Linked DNA regions of Homo sapiens. The protein of the gene in region 3 interacts with the protein of the main gene of each other region in a pairwise test. Each region holds a gene or a part of one and is shown on either strand. Other genes may lie near its edges.

Region 1 (3,500 bases), about 80 Mb from region 3:
AGCATTAACAGCCAATGGGCAAAATACAGCCAAAAGACTGAGGAGAGGGCAGAGGGGCAGATTTAAATTAACGTAGCAGCAATGCTGGGCTACTGGAAAAAAGATGACTGATAGTAGGACTAAAACTGCCACCAAAGTTAAAATGCCTATATAAACTGTTTCAACAAAGTCACACTCAGAATATTTTTGTTTTTTTAATTAAACTTACGCAGGCTGGGTGTGGTGGCTCATGCCTGTAATCCTAGCACTTTGGGAGGCCACAGCAGATCACTTGAGGTCAGGAGTTTGAGACCAGCCTGGCCAATATAGTGAAACCCCGTCTCCACTAAAAATACAAAAATTAGCTGGGTGTGATGGCATGTACCTGTAGTCGCAGCTACTTGGGAGGCTGAGACAGGAGAATCGCTTCAACCCAGGAGGCGGAAGCTACAGTGAGCTGAGGTTGCACCACTGCACTCCAGCCTGGGAGACAGAGCAAAACTCCATCTCAAAAACAAACAAACAAAAACCAAAAAAACTCAGGCAAACCAAAAAAGGCATCATAATGTAATAAAAGAAAATATAGGTTATTTGGCTAGTTTTAATATGTTTACTTTAAAAAATAAAATACAGCAGAGTATCTAATGTCATCAAGACCCAATATGGAAAGGTAGCTAAATAAACCATTCGTGCTCTTGCATTTGTTTCTGATTTACTTGGTACCATACCTAAATAATAATGTGCACAAATCTTTTAATTGATTGTATTCAGAATTTATTAAAAGCACCACTTATTGGATAGTTTATTAAATGCATGCAAGTATCTGTATATGATTTCTTCAGCATATGTGTGTTTAAGGCAACATGAGAGAGAGCCAGAGACAGGAAAGCTGTCCATTTTAAAATCAAATTGGTGTATATCTCCTGCTTATTCAACATGTTTTGGTCTTGGAATTGTTTCTCTAATAATGTACTGGCAAGTCAGACGTTAAATTATTTAAGGTTTCTAAACACTGATTTGGTGGAAGTGCTAACAATCCTTGTGAACAAAGATAAGCTTCAGAAAAACTGAACAGCACTAAAAAAAAGTATCTACTTTGGAAAATAATGATCCTTTGTAATTGATTTTGGTTTTAGATATAAAGTTTACATTGGTAATTCTAATGTCTGTTTACCAGTTTAATTTTAAAAAGTACTTGGCTGGGTGCAGTGACTCACACCTATAGTCCCAGCACTTTAGGGAATCTGGAGCAAGAGGATCACTTGAGCCTAAGGATTCCAGACCAGCCTGGGCAACATAGTGTGAAACCCCATCTCTACAAAAAAAATTTAAAAATAAACCTTGCATGGTGGTGCGTGCGTGCCTGTTGTCCCAGATATTCAAGGCTGAGGCAGGAGGATCACTCGAGCCTGGGAGGTGGAGGGTGCATTCAGCCATGATTGTGCCACTGCACTCCAGCCTGAGCAACAGAGCAAAACCCTGTCTCAAAAAAACACAAGGAAAAAAAAAGTACTTAGCCAGGTGCAGTGGCTCATGCCTGTAATCTCAGCAGTTTGAGAGGCTGAGGTGGATCACTTGAGGTCAGGAGTTAGAGACCAGCCTGGCCAACATGATGAAACCCCATCTCCACTAAAAATACAAAAATTAGCTGTGTGTGGTGGTGTGTGCCTGTGGTCCCAGCTACTCAGGAGGCTGAGGCAGGAGAATCGTTTGATGCAGTGAGCCAAGATTGTGCCACTGCACTCCAGCCTGGGTGATAGAGTGAGACTCCATCTCCAAAAAAAAAAAAAAAGTACTTATCACAGAGACATAACCATAAACTTAAGTTCTAATAGTACTGAAAGTTATTTTAAATAGAAATCTTTTACAAACATCACAATAGTGTCTTTTATAGAATGCCTAGACAAAACCCAGTTCTCTAATTATTTTCCTTATAGGAAATCTAGAAAAAACCTTCAGTAGAATGGTACTAGTATGACAAATTCAATATTATAGTCTCAGAAGTTCTTTCATTTTTAAAGGATAAAAAAAAAACCAAAAGAAAGTCAACATGGAGTCAGTGAAAAAATTCTACACCAGAAGCAAAGAGGTGCACTAGATCTACATGAAGAAAAGCACACCACTGAGAATTACTTACAATAAGAAAATGAAAAAAATCCAGAAAAATACTGTGCTCTCAGGGACATACAAAAAATTAAGAACTCAGGGTGGGGGAAAAAACAGTATTAAAGAGGACTGGGACTAAAAAAAAAAAGACTATAAGTTAAATAAAAACACAATAGAAATTTAAAATCCAAATTATAAGCAGTAAGGAAATCAGTGATGGAAGGGCCTAACTTAAGAAGCTATGCAAAAGAAAAAAGTTAGAAAGGATGTGTGAGATGACAGCAATGAGAACAAGAAAGGAGAGCCAACCAATGAAAAATTCCTGGAGAAAAAAACAAGAGCAAAACAAAAGGCACCAACTTAATATTTTCCTCAGCTAAAAAAAAAAAAAAAAAAAAAAAAAAAAAAAAAAAAAAAAGATTTCCACATCTAAAGGACCTGTTATCTTTTAGATAAAATTATTGGATTTAAAAAATCAGTAGCTATAACCCTAAACTTTGAAATATTTTAATCATTTTACATCTACAATGCAACAGATGGCTGTATTTGCTATGGAAAAGGCACATTTATCCAGTCAGGATGGTGTAAATCTGGTATTTTACTGCGTACCTTGATTATTTTGTATTTGGGTTTGGACATTAACTTGCTGAGGGCAGAAACAAGAACCTGAACTCATGCCTTAAGATAAAAATTGCATTCTTTTTATACACCTACTACATTTGAAACTATGCAGTGGCTCAATCATGGCTCACTGAAGCCTCAATCTCCCAGGCCCATGAGATGCTTCCACCTCAGCCTTCCAAGTAGCTGGGACCACAGGTGTGTGCTAGCACGCCCAACTAATTTTAAAGTTTTTTGTAGAGATGAGCTCTCCCTATGTTGTCCAGGCTGGTCTTGAACTCCTGAGCTCAACAGATCCTCCAGTCTCGGCCTCCCAAAGTGTTGGGATTACAGGCATGAGCCACTTCGCCCAGCCCACCCAAGCATTTTTATGGGCTCTGAAATGTACTACGTAAAAAGGACACGCTTTATTGGTTTAGAAAGTTAAGTATACATTATTATTATGATCAGCAGTAGGATAGCTATTTTATTTCCACCAGTCATTGATTAAAACAATCCAAGTGTAGTAGGTATTAATCAGTAGCTTAAGCTGGAAATAAAAATTTACTATGGGAACGACTACAGTGCTTTCAAATAACCGACATATGAAAAATTTACAGCTAACCTCTTCCAAAGAGCTGTCCATACTGCAGTCTCCAATGCTCTTCCTCCTGTTGTCTCTTGAAACCACACCAATCAGGTTTTCTTCCTCACTATTCTCCTGAAAGTGCTCTTGCAAGGTCACCAAGGACCTTCCTATTACTAAATCCAATGGTCATCTCCTAGTCTTCATCTTACTTGACTTGTCAATCAGC
Region 2 (4,031 bases), on a different chromosome or scaffold from region 3:
TTTCCAGAAGAAAACCAGAGTCCAGAGAAGCAGAGAGGCACTCAGTGAGGACCCAAGCAGAGCGGGTGCACCTCACATCCTCACTCCTGGCACCCCGTCTCCTACAAGATGAGAGACTGAAAGAGCCCCTTCCTGTCCCCAGTGGTGTGGGCAAGAGGCCTGCACCTCTGACTCTTGGCTCTGTGAAAGGCCATACCCACCAAGCCTATGGTCCTAGCGACAAAGGGTGCTGGGGAGACGAATTGACCAGACAGGGAGGTCTCCAGCAGCTTCTTTCTACACAGAGGGCACCTGTCAGAGGCCAGCGTGGGGGCCACAGGCTCCCCAATCCCCAAGAACCGCCAGGGAAGGAGGCTGCTTCAAGTGGGTGGGGCACCAAGCTGGCCAGGAAGGACAGGGCTTCTCCCAGCGGTACCAACACGGTGGCACCTCCGGCCTGCATCTCCCAGGCTTGCTTGTCAGGCTTCCTGGGGCTCCCAGGAGCCGCTGCGGGGGAGGGGAGAAGGGGTGGCAGCAGTGGCAGTGGTCGTCTCTGCTCCGATGGTGACTGCCGATGACACTGTTCTCTGTGCGGGTGGAGACAAAGCCGGCCACTCCAGATTCTCCTGCGCGCAGGAGAGGAGGAGCTGGCGCTGCTTCAGTGGCGAGGATGGGTCGATCAGTCCCAGCCGGTCCTAGGGAGAGACACTGCCCCAGCCTGAGGGCGGCGCAGCCCACCCCACCCCAGGACCCTCCTAGCAGGAGGACAGGAACGCAAGCCGACCTCGGGGGGTCTCCGGCCTGAGAGGGGAACATGATCAAGCCCAGGGCAGCCGCCAGTCGGAGGGGGCAGACGCGGCCCCAGTAGCCTCTGGAGACCCTCTTCCGAGGCAAGGAGCCACATTCCTGCCGTCGGGACCACCAAAGCGGATTTCTACAAACTAAAGTCGAGAACTTTTCGGCGGCGAGGCGGCGCACCCCGCGCGGGAGAGGGGGCGCAGGCGTCACCCCGTCCTCACTCAGCAACACCCGGCGCCGCGCCGGGCGAAGGCTGGCAAACTTCTCGCGGCCGGCAGGTGGGCTCCGCGGGCCCCATGGGCGCAGGCACAGGTGTGCGGGGCCACAGCCGGGCCTTTTGCAGCCGGCGACCGCCCCCCCTTCCCCGCGGGCTTTTGCACACGACGCGCCGACGGCAGCTTCACACGGGTTGGCGAGGGCCGGATAAAGCCGGCGGCCGCGGGGCGCAGCGGCTGACCCGAGACACGGGAGCGCTTGGCACGCGGAGCCAGAGCCGGAGCTGCAGCCGCAGCGGGAGCCGGGGGAGCTCAGGGGCCGCAGGAGCCGGGCCGGAGTGAGCGCACCTCGCGGGGCCCTCGGGGCAGGTGGGTGAGCGCCACCCGGAGTCCCGCGCGCAACTTTCAGGGCGCACTCGGCGGGGCGGCTGCGCGGCTGCCGGGACTCGGCGCGGGACTGCATGGAGGCCAAGGAGAAGCAGCATCTGTTGGACGCCAGGCCGGCAATCCGGTAAGGCGAGAGCCTGGGGACGGGCGGGAATTTTGGCGGCAGCCGACGCACCTCCGCATTTGCCATCCTAGCAGTGGTTGGTTTTGGCTGCGGCTTGAGCTGGGACCATGCAGGAGGGGTGGGGTGAGGTGAGGGAACGAAGATAATGGGCTGTGGCCCAAGGACCGTCTCTCCCTTGGGGCGCAGCCCAGATTCTGACCCCTGCCCGCGGGGGGCCTGGGGCCGGGGGATTGGCGGTTCCCATGCCTGGAGTCCCGCCCCGCCCAGCACTTTGCCCCAGGCAGCCCCGCCCCGGGGAGGCCCTGTGTCCCAAGTGCGCTGGAGGGGGCCTGCTGTTCTCCCAGAGCCTGCGCTCTGTTCCTTCCCCGCGCTCCACTGGACAGCACGCCCCTTGGCCGGTTCCCAGGGTCTTCACCTCCTCTGGCCTCTGAAGGGCCCCGGGCCCCAGGACTCCCATTCCCCTATCATCCCCGTCTGAATACAGGCTTCTCACCTCTGGTTTGTCGAGCTCGGAGCGTCCTTAGCTATTTTTCCCAGTGGACACAAGGCCTCACAGAGAAATGGGACTAGAGTCGGCCCTCCTTACCTCATCTCAGAGCTGAGCGTTCCCTCTCTTCCCCTCTGGCCAGGTCATACACGGGATCTCTGTGGCAGGAAGGGGCTGGCTGGATTCCTCTGCCCCGACCTGGCCTGGACTTGCAGGCCATTGAGCTGGCTGCCCAGAGCAACCATCACTGCCATGCTCAGAAGGGTCCTGACAGTCACTGTGACCCCAAGAAGGGGAAGGCCCAGCGCCAGCTGTATGTAGCCTCTGCCATCTGCCTGTTGTTCATGATCGGAGAAGTCGTTGGTAAGCACTTTTGGGCTAATTAAATGAAGTTGGTGCATGGATAGACTGGATGTTCCCAGCAATACTGACACTAAAAGCCCCAATTACTGAACACACACTACAGTAAGCCTTTATATACACATTATCTGATGCAGGTCTAACAACAACCTGTGTTCTCACATGGGTGACGTTATTCTCCTTACTTTACAGATGATGAAACTGAGGCATGTTCAGGTGAAGTAACTTGCCAAAGATCACGCACAACTCGTAGCTAAGGGAAGGCCTGAATTCCTAGAAGGGAAGAGCATTTACTGAGTATCTGCTATGTTTTCCAGTCCCTATTTGAACTTGATGTGCACATTCACCCTCTAAGTAGATATTGGTGGCCCATTTCACAGAGAGTGGAAGTTGAGGCTCAGAGAGAGTAGGTCACTTGTCACGGTGGTACAGCTCATGGGTAGAGAGATCTTGAGCCCAGAATGTCCTCTTCCAGAGCCTGTGGTCTCCCTGCTGCACACACAGTCTTGGGAGCCAGCTCTCTGGGGGAGCTGATAAGGACCCTCCACCCTGCAGGTGGGTACCTGGCACACAGCTTGGCTGTCATGACTGACGCAGCACACCTGCTCACTGACTTTGCCAGCATGCTCATCAGCCTCTTCTCCCTCTGGATGTCCTCCCGGCCAGCCACCAAGACCATGAACTTTGGCTGGCAGAGAGCTGGTGAGGATCGCGGTTTGGCTGGAGATGGGGTTGAGAGAGAGGGTGGGTTAGAACAGGGGTTCTTAGGTGGCTGTAATGGGTGGATCCCCCCTTCCTCCCCTGAGTGAGGCCAGGAGGGTGATCTGGATGGGGGAAGAGGATGTCAACCATGGCCTCTGTCCTCTGGGAAATCCTAGTCTGATGGGGGAGCCCTGGTCCCAGTCATCCAGGAGCTCTCAGTCTGCAGGGAAGCAAAGTTGACCTTCCTAAGAAGTGCAGTAGCCAAGCTTCAAGAACAAATGACAATGGCATTAACACTGCACATAACTCTGTGGATCAGCTCTGGGGGGAGGGGAAGGCCAGCAAAGGCTGCTGGAAGATATAGGCTTTAACCTCTCTTCCGTTCACCCTGGACTGCATCGTCACCTTCCTCTTTGTGGGAGATGGCCCAGCCTGTCTTCCCCAGAAGCCTCAGTTTACTAGCTGAACAAAAGGCACATACTTTAATAAGTCAGCTTCTTTACATGTACAACCAAAAAGGTGGACTCAGATGATGACTTATTAGTTCCTTCTAGCTCTTACATTCCTAGATATATGAGGGGTGGGGTAAGGGGCAGCCATACCGGCCATACCTTCAGCAGAGCCCAGTGGGACCCAGGCCCTGACTTTGTGTGGGAGGTGGGTGGGGAGGATCCTGAAGGAAGGGGGAAGACTCCTTAGCTCCAGGCCCATGCCAAGGTGGGTGTTGGGGTTGGGTTCTTCCTCAGAGATCTTGGGAGCCCTGGTCTCTGTACTGTCCATCTGGGTCGTGACGGGGGTACTGGTGTACCTGGCTGTGGAGCGGCTGATCTCTGGGGACTATGAAATTGACGGGGGGACCATGCTGATCACGTCGGGCTGCGCTGTGGCTGTGAACATCATGTGAGTGGGGCCCCAGTTTCCCTCGTCTCCCCTCCTCCTCCCGCCTCTCACACCCACACCTATGTCTGCTTTGCGGAAA
Region 3 (4,834 bases):
AGAGTTACAGATGCAGCTGGCCCCCTGGGGGGCTTCTATCCGCCTCTCAGAGCCCTTGGTCCCACCCTGTTATCTCTTCAGTGACAATCTTAGCTAGAGTTTCAGTTTGAGGGGTTTTACAAAACTTAACCCGTAGTATTTTTCAAGTACTACCCTCCCTAGTCCCCCAAGCCCCCACATTGTCCACTCCTGTTCAGAATATTGTTGATAGTGCAAGCCCTCTGGAAGGATAACACAGAAAATCCATTGTCTGATTATACCATGTTTCATAACATTTTATCATTTCCTAGCACATTTCCCAAAATGAGGGGTTACAGAGCAGATCAGGGAAAGGAAAATCTAGGCACACAGAGACCATTCTATTTAACAGGGGTGCCCAGGGAAGAGCAGGAAAGCACTGCAGACCTGGAAGAAAGTGTGGGCTAGTGCTGTACGGCAGCTGGACCCTCTGGCCTTCATAGCTATGGGTAAAATGGCATAAAATGCCAACTTCATAAGATTGCATTAGATATTATATTCACCAGTACTTTGAAAACTGTGCTGGTGTTACCAGTAGTACTAACATGATTATTCCTATAAAGTACTAAGAGGGGGACAGAAAAAGGACCATAGAGTGGCACTAAATGAAAGCCTGCCCTTCTTCATAGCTTCACTGGAGGCTTGCTCTGACCTGAGCTAGCTGCATCTGAATATTAGCAGAGGAAGTTATGTCAGGCTCAGAGATCTATGGACCCTGTTAGAAACTCTGTAATTCCTTTCTTTTTTTTTTTTTTTTTTTGAGTTAGGGTCTAGCTCTGTCACCCAGGCTGAAGTGCAGAGGCACAATCATGGCTCACTGCAGCCTTGACCACCCAAGCTCAAGCCATCCTCCCACTTTAGCCTCCCAAGTAGCTGGGACCACAGGTGCACACCACCATGCCTGGCTAACTTATTCTCTCTTTTTTTTAATAGAAATAGGGCTCTCACTATGTTGCCCAGGCTGCCCGGGTTGGTCTCAGACTCCTAGAATCAAGCTATCCTCCTGCCTTGGCTTCCCAAAGTGCAGGGGTTACAGGTGTGAGCCACTGTGCCCAGCCCAATTCCCTTATTTCTGAATCACAATTTCTACCTATCCAGGTGACATTTTCCTTAATTTCTCCATGTAAATATAGGATCTGAGGTAGTAAGAGATGTGTGTGTGTGCATGCCTGCATGTGTGTGTGCATGATGAGTTGCCAGTGTTACCTGCAACAGATGAAAATGAAGATCCAATGCCTTGAAGGGTTCGGGCCACAAAGAGTAGAGTATAGGTCCCAGAAAAAGCAAACACTGGGCAGAGAGAATAGCAAGATAACTGCAGTTAGCAAATTGCCTTTGCTTCCCCAGCCGCCAGAGAACATGCCCGTGATACTGCAGATATGAGTCTTGATGCATATGTTTTTAATAAAGCATGATGACTGTTCCCTGTTTTTTGAGTTGTCTTTTCAATCTCCCACTCCTCAGTTTTGCTATTTAAATGGCAAGAAAACTGAGAAACCACAGAAGTATAAACCGAGTCACCACACAGCAGATGGAAGGCTGAGTCTGTACATCTCTTGCCAAGAACCCAACATTCTGTCCACTGAAATGAGGGATGTCCATGAAGCTCAGTGTCCTAGGCTGGAAACTGGTTCTTAGATCATACTCCTGGATCGTCCATGTGCAAAATCCAGATCTGGTCTTTACCATTGCTGGGTCCCACAGGATCATCTGGAGTACAGTGACAGTAAGTAGGTGCTTCGAGGATTATAGGAATTGGGTAGAAAATAATATCTTGTGATACAATCAGATCCTTTTTTATATCTTATATTGAACGATCTTTTAACCAGACAAAATCAGCAGGTATTAAATTATACTGAATGCGCAGCTCTGCTAGACTCTGTAGCAAATGCAAAATAAAAATAACATCTAGTTATTGTCCGTGAAGAGAGGCAGTGTGTTGAAGATGGACACCCAGGAAACTGAGATCCAACAGGAATATGTCATCCAAAACAATAAGAGAAATATGGCTCTGTCCTGCCAGGCTCCCAGACAGTCAGACCTAATGGTTATCTCCCCTTGCTCCCTGAACATCTCCATTATCCTATTCTTTTTTCAAGGTTCTGAGATCTCATATTGTTCAAACACACACGCTTTATGAACAATTTGTGCAGTTAACGCAATCCTCACAGGGTCCTGAGTCGACATACATCCTCAGTTTACGAAGACCATGGGATTAAGAGATTAAAGTAAAGACAGGCATAGGAAATTATAAGAGTATTGATAATTGGGGAAGTGATAAATGTCCATGAAATCTTCACAATTTTATGTTCAGAGATTGCAGTAAAGACAAGTGTGAGAAATTATAAAAGTATTAATTTGGGGAACTAATAAATGTCCATGAAATCTTCATGATTTATGTTCTTCTGTCATGGCTTCAGCAGGTCCTTCCATTCAGGGTCCCTGACTTCCCGCAACACAAAACTAAATCAGAGGGTGCTGGTGGTCAGGGTAGTTAAGTCCAGACATGTCTCACCTCCAATTCCAGAAAAATGTCTCCTAGGGTAAGAATAATCTCCTCGAAGTGTCTGAATCAGAAGAATTGTAATCCCTTTGCCCATTCATTACAGATGTCTTTGGTTGTGTTTTTAATCTTCTCCCATTACTTCCCGGCAGACATGATCACACCGAACTTCTCCTTGTCTCCCAAAGATGCACATTCTTGGTCTCTTCTTTCCTGGCCACCAGCATCTTTTCTCAGACTTTGTTATTTCCAGTCTTTTCTGTCTACTCTCCCAATGTCCTTTGAGAATAGAGTGACCCACTCATCTTGGTCTGCCCAGAACTTCCTTGTTTTTAAAACTGAAACTCAAAATACCCCACAAAAACAGGAAGTCTTACATCCTGGGAAGCCCCTCACTACAGTGTGGACATGGGTTGTTTGTCCCCACCAAATCTCATGTTGAAATTTGATCCCCGGTGTTGGAGATGGGGCCCAGTGGAAGGTGTTTGGGTTATGGGGAAGGATCCCTCATGAATACTTTAATGTCTTCCTTTGGTGGTGAGTGAGTTCTCACTCTACAGTTCTCTCAAGAGCTGCTGGTTAAAAAAAGGCTGGCACCTCCCTCTCCTCTCTCTTTCTTCCTCTCTCATCTCTGCACAGCCAGCTCCCCTTCACCTTCCACCATGAGTGGAAGCTCCCTGAGGCCCGCACCAGAAGCAGATGCTGGTGTCATGCTTCTTGTAGAGCCTGCAGAACCATGAGCCAACAAACCTCTTTCTAATATAAATGACCCAGCCTCAGGTACTCCTTTATAGCAATGCTAAATGGACTAAGACACCCCTCAATTCTAGGCAAACCAGGAGAGTTGGTCATTCTATTTAGGAATACCAAAGCAATTATTTTTTTCACTTTGGACCCTTTACATGGGCCACCATTTCACTCTTGATTACATTAGGCATGGCTCCTAGTTGGGGGGTGGAGGGTTTAAGGGTAGTAACGGGCATCAACAATCTCTTTTAAGTATTTTTTAGAACATTGGACAAGGATACCCTAAACATCAAATGTATTTTCTTTTGGTTAGAATTAGGCCAACTCCATATAGCAACACAGCTATCCTATGGAAATAATAATTATTTAACATATATAGTTTGGTATAAGTTAAACAATAATTACTTAACATATACAGTTTACTTTAAAAGTAAAGCTTTTAACACATGAATTCTTGGCAGAGAATCAGGCAAGGATATCATGCTAAAACGTCTCAGATCCACTAGCACACCGCATTGTCTTACTTCTCAGTGTGTGTCTCATGTCTCCCCAGGCAACCATCATATACACTTCTGATAGCTGGAATCATGTCTTTTCATTCTTTATGTGACTATGGCCATCTGGGCATTATACATGCACTGCATAAAGTTGTTTGGAATAAATCTTAAGCCTCATTTGATGAAATAGGGCACCTGGCATCTTATTATTTTTAAATTTGCTGTCTAACTTAGGCTGAACTGCTAGAAGTTCCATGAACAGTGCTAATTTGAATTTCTTCATTTTCTTCAAGTCCACTAAAATTTCACAAACAAGACGTAGTTCTCAGAGACAACCTCACATCTCAAGTTCTTGCAGTTTGCAGCCTTCCAGCCCAGAATGCAACAAATTCTTGTTAAATATTGGGTTGCTAGGAATCAAGTTCTGTGCTGGGAAAGAAGAAAAGTTGAGGAAGAGGAAGACAGAAAGTAGACAAGGAACAGAAAGGTAATAAGAAAAATGAGAGGCATGTTCTCACTCATAGGTGGGAATTGAACAGAGAACACATGGACACCGGAAGGGGAACTTCACACACCGGGGCCTGTCATGGAGTCGGGGGAGAGGGGAGGGATAGCATTAGGAGATATACCTAATGTAAATGATGAGTTAATGGGTGCAGTACTCCAACATGGCACATGTATACATACGTAACAAACCTGCACGTTGTGCACGTGTACCCTAGAACTTAAAGTATAATTAAAAAGAAAAGAAAAGAAAAGAAAAACGCGAGGGAGAAGGAGGTGTGTTGTTGGAGAGCAGAGGTTCAGCAGGGCCATCGGGAACCAAGGCTGGATCCACAGGCTGCCTTCCCCTGCCTTAACCTGCTAACGCTAACCCTTTTCATTCCTTCTTCCTTTACTTCTCAGCATCAATTTCCAGACTTACTTTTCTCATGTACTGTGTTTATCCCATCTCCATTTTATTAGAAACATTTAGCTGATCCTGGATAGAGTATTTGTCTTTCTCTTTCTTGTTTCTTTAGCAAATTTACTTTTCTAAGCTTAACCTTTAAAGCCCTTAACTGAAAAG
Region 4 (3,500 bases), on a different chromosome or scaffold from region 3:
CTCTAAGCCCTTCTCCATGTGGGCAGGGCGGTGGTGGAAGGCCTGTGGCTGCGCTACCAGGGGGTGCCAGTGGAGGAGGACGTGGGGCGGGAGCGGCGGCGGCGAGTGCTGCAGACGCTGGTCTGGTTCCTGCTCACCCTGCTGCTGGCGCTCTTCATCCCTGACATCGGCAAGGTGATCTCAGTCATTGGAGGCCTGGCCGCCTGCTTCATCTTCGTCTTCCCAGGTGCGGACCCCTGGCGCCCCATCTCACAGCCCCACAGCACAGACTCCCAGGGCCTGCCTAGCCTCAGCTCCCTACTTGCTCAAAACATGCAGGAGAGAGTAACCACCAGCACTAATTGATCACCTGTCTCGCCTCTGTACTAGCCCCTATCCAAGCATTATCTCCTGGAAAGAAGGTATAGTTGTGATCTCCAGTTTACTGATGGCACGTGGGGCTCAGAAAGGGTCACAGACTTGCCTAGAGCTTAACAAACTCAACTAGTAACCTTTTCCATCCCACGCTGTCTGGGTCCAGAGTCTATTCTTTTAACCATTCATTCAGGTGTCTGCTGCTCCTTGACTATGAGGGATCTATCTGGCTGGTTCAGCCCATTACAGCCCAGAGGGCAGTGGGGTCTGGGGTGGCACCCTGACACAGACATCAGGGAACCTGGGTTCCAGACACAGATCTACCGCCAGATCCCTGGAGAACTGTCCTGTCTGCCCAGCCATGAGTTCCACCCTTTTCCAGCTTGTCTCTATCCAGGAAGCCACCCTGAAAGCCCCAGCTGCTTTGCTTGGAGCAGGGGAGCCAGATCTGCTGGGAAGTGTACTAGGAAGACCCCTGGGGTTGGGCCACCACTGAGTCACCATTGAGTGCTGTCCCTTTAGCTGAGTCTAGCATGCTGCCCAAGGGGTCTTGTCAGATGCCAGCCTGTCATGGGAGAGCAGATGCCAGATGACCCCAGCAGGATGTGGTGTGGGGGCAGAGATGGAATTTCTAGAAGAGTAAACATGGGCCTTTCTCCATCCAGCACTGCTTCTTGGGAAAGGAGGTGGCTAGGAGGGAGGGAGCCCTCTCCCCTCACAAATGCTCAGGGCCACTTCTTCTCTTTCAGGGCTGTGCCTCATTCAAGCCAAACTCTCTGAGATGGAAGAGGTCAAACCAGCCAGGTAAAGCAGGACCCAGCCCTTGATCCTCTCAGGGAGGTGCTGGATTGGAATGTGGCTTTGTGGGGGCCTTAAAACAGATAGGAGTCAGAGGCTTGTGTACTTAGAAATCATGGGTTTTTGTTTTGTTTTTTTTTTTTTGAGCCGGAGTCTCGCTGTGTCGCCCAGCCTGGAGTGCAGTGGCACGATCTCAGCTCACTGCAAGCTCCGCCTCCTGGGTTCACACCATTCTCGTGCCTCAGCCTCCCGAGTAGCTAGGACTACAGATGCCTGCCACCACACCCAGCTAATTTTTGTATTTTTAGTAGAGACGAGGTTTCACCATGTTGGCCAGGCCGGTCTCGAACTCCTGACCTTAGGTGATCCTCCTTCCTCGGCCTCCCAAAGTGCTGGCATTACAGGCGTGAGCCACCACACCCAGCCAGGTTGTTGTTGTTTTTTTTTTAATACTTTTAAAAATTCGGTAGTGTGCTAGTTGTTAACAATTTAAACATTAATAAAGGGCTTAATACAAAAAGATGGAAGTCCCTCTTCCCCCACAACCCACTCGCCCCCACATCCTTTCTGAGATAGCTCCATGTTACCAGTATGGTCTGTGTCCTCAACCACTTCTGTACATGTGTGCGTGTCTGTGTACACATAGCTATGGAGATGTATACATAGATGCAGGGCTCTTGTTTTGTTTTATGAAAAGTGGTTTCAGCCAGGTGCATTGGCTCATGCCTGTAATCCCAGCACTTTGGGAGGCCAACATGGGCAGATCACCCGAGGTCAGGAGTTCGAGACCAGCCTGACCAACATGGTGAAACCCCATCTCTACTAAAAATACAAAATTAGCTGGGCATGGTGGCACCTGCCTGTAATCCCAGCTACTTGGGAGACTGAGGCAGGAGAATTGCTTGAACCCAGGAGGCGGAGGTTGCAGTGAGCCGAGATCACACCATTACACTCCAGCCTGGGCAACAAGAGGGAAACTCTGTCTCAAAAAAAAAAAAAAAAAAAAAAAAAAAAAGCCATACAAACATGTCTAAAAAAGAAAAAAAATTGGCCAGGCACAGTGACTCACGCCTGTAATCCCAGCACTTTGGGAGGCCAAGACAGGCAGATCACCTGAGGTCAGGAGTTCGAGACCAGCCTGGCCAACATGGCAAAACCCCGTCTTTACTAAAAATACAAAAATTACCTGGTTGTGGTGGCGCATGCCTGTAGTCCTAGCTCGGGAGGCTGAGGTAGGAGAATTGCTTGAACCCCGGAGGCGGAGGTTGCAGTAAGTGGAGATCGCACCACTGCACTCCAGCCTGGGTGATAGCAAAACTCTGTCTCAAAAAAAGAAAAAGAAGAAGAAGAAAAAAAATCACCCTTTATTTCTTTTTTTTTTGTCTTTTTTTTTTTTTTTTTTTTTGAGATGGAGTTTCACTCGTTGCCCAGGCTGGAGTGCAATGGCGCGATCTCTGCTCACTACAACAACCTCCACCTCCCGGGTTCAAGCGATTCTCCTGCCTCAGCCTCCTGAGTAGCTTGGATTACAGGCGCCCACCACCACACCCAGCTAATTTTTTGGGTTTGTTGTTGTTGTTTTGAGATGGAATCTCGCTCTGTCACCCAGGCTGGAGTGCAGTGGCATGATCTCGGCTCACTGCAACCTCCAGGGTATCTGGGATTACAGGTGCGCAGCACCATGCCTGGCTAATTTTTGTATTTTTGGTAGAGACGGGGTTTCACCATGTTGGCTAGGCTGATCTCGAACTCCTGACCTCAGGTGATCCGCCCACCTTGGCCTCCCAAAGTTCTGGGATTACAGGCGTGAGCCACCATACCCAGCCATTTTTTGTATTTTTTTAGTAGAGACGGGGTTTCACCACGCTGGCCAGGCTGGTCTCAAACTCCTGACCTCAGGTGATCCACCTGCCTTGGCCTCCCAAAGTGCTGGGATTATAGACATGAGCCACCACACCCAGCCTAATTTTTCTATTTTTAGTAGAGATGGGGTTTCGCCATCTTGCCCAGGCTGGTCTTGAACTCCTGACCTCAGGTGATCCATCTGCCTCGGCCTCCCAAAGTGCTGGAATTACAGACATGAGCCACTGCACCCAGCCTAATTTTTCTGTTTTTAGTAGAGATGGGGTTTTGCCATCTTGCCCAGGCTGGTCTCGAACTCCTGACCTCAGGTTGCCCGCCTTGGCCTCCCAAAGTGCTGGGATTACAGGTGTGAGCCACCACACCCGGCCGGAAATCACCCTTTATTTCAATTCCGTTTTATCCCTGTTGCTGTTAATTGGTACATACATTTGCAGATGTCTGCTTTTTGTTTCCTTTTTTTAATGAAATAGACCACATTCCATGTG

Evidence for each region.
Region 1: the proteins of SLC18A1 (region 3) and ANKRD46 interact in binary tests that used the Homo sapiens proteins (3 or more experiments, as listed by UniProt).
Region 2: the proteins of SLC18A1 (region 3) and SLC30A2 interact in binary tests that used the Homo sapiens proteins (3 or more experiments, as listed by UniProt).
Region 4: the proteins of SLC18A1 (region 3) and SLC38A7 interact in binary tests that used the Homo sapiens proteins (3 or more experiments, as listed by UniProt).

The regions. Positions count from the first base shown.
Region 1 is NC_000008.11:100,553,260-100,556,759, forward strand, and holds part of ANKRD46 (ankyrin repeat domain-containing protein 46), read right to left. Parts: intron 1-3,500.
Region 2 is NC_000001.11:26,043,319-26,047,349, reverse strand, and holds the start of SLC30A2 (proton-coupled zinc antiporter SLC30A2), read left to right. Parts: upstream 1-1,231; 5' UTR 1,232-1,453; coding exon 1,454-1,503; intron 1,504-2,132; coding exon 2,133-2,353; intron 2,354-2,905; coding exon 2,906-3,052; intron 3,053-3,798; coding exon 3,799-3,952; intron 3,953-4,031.
Region 3 is NC_000008.11:20,173,137-20,177,970, forward strand, and holds part of SLC18A1 (chromaffin granule amine transporter), read right to left. Parts: intron 1,309-4,834; coding exon 1,225-1,308; intron 1-1,224.
Region 4 is NC_000016.10:58,667,771-58,671,270, reverse strand, and holds part of SLC38A7 (sodium-coupled neutral amino acid transporter 7), read left to right. Parts: intron 1-26; coding exon 27-226; exon of another isoform or gene 227-401; intron 402-1,103; coding exon 1,104-1,158; intron 1,159-3,500. UniProt on the Homo sapiens protein: Symporter that selectively cotransports sodium ions and amino acids, such as L-glutamine and L-asparagine from the lysosome into the cytoplasm and may participates in mTORC1 activation. The transport activity requires an acidic lysosomal lumen.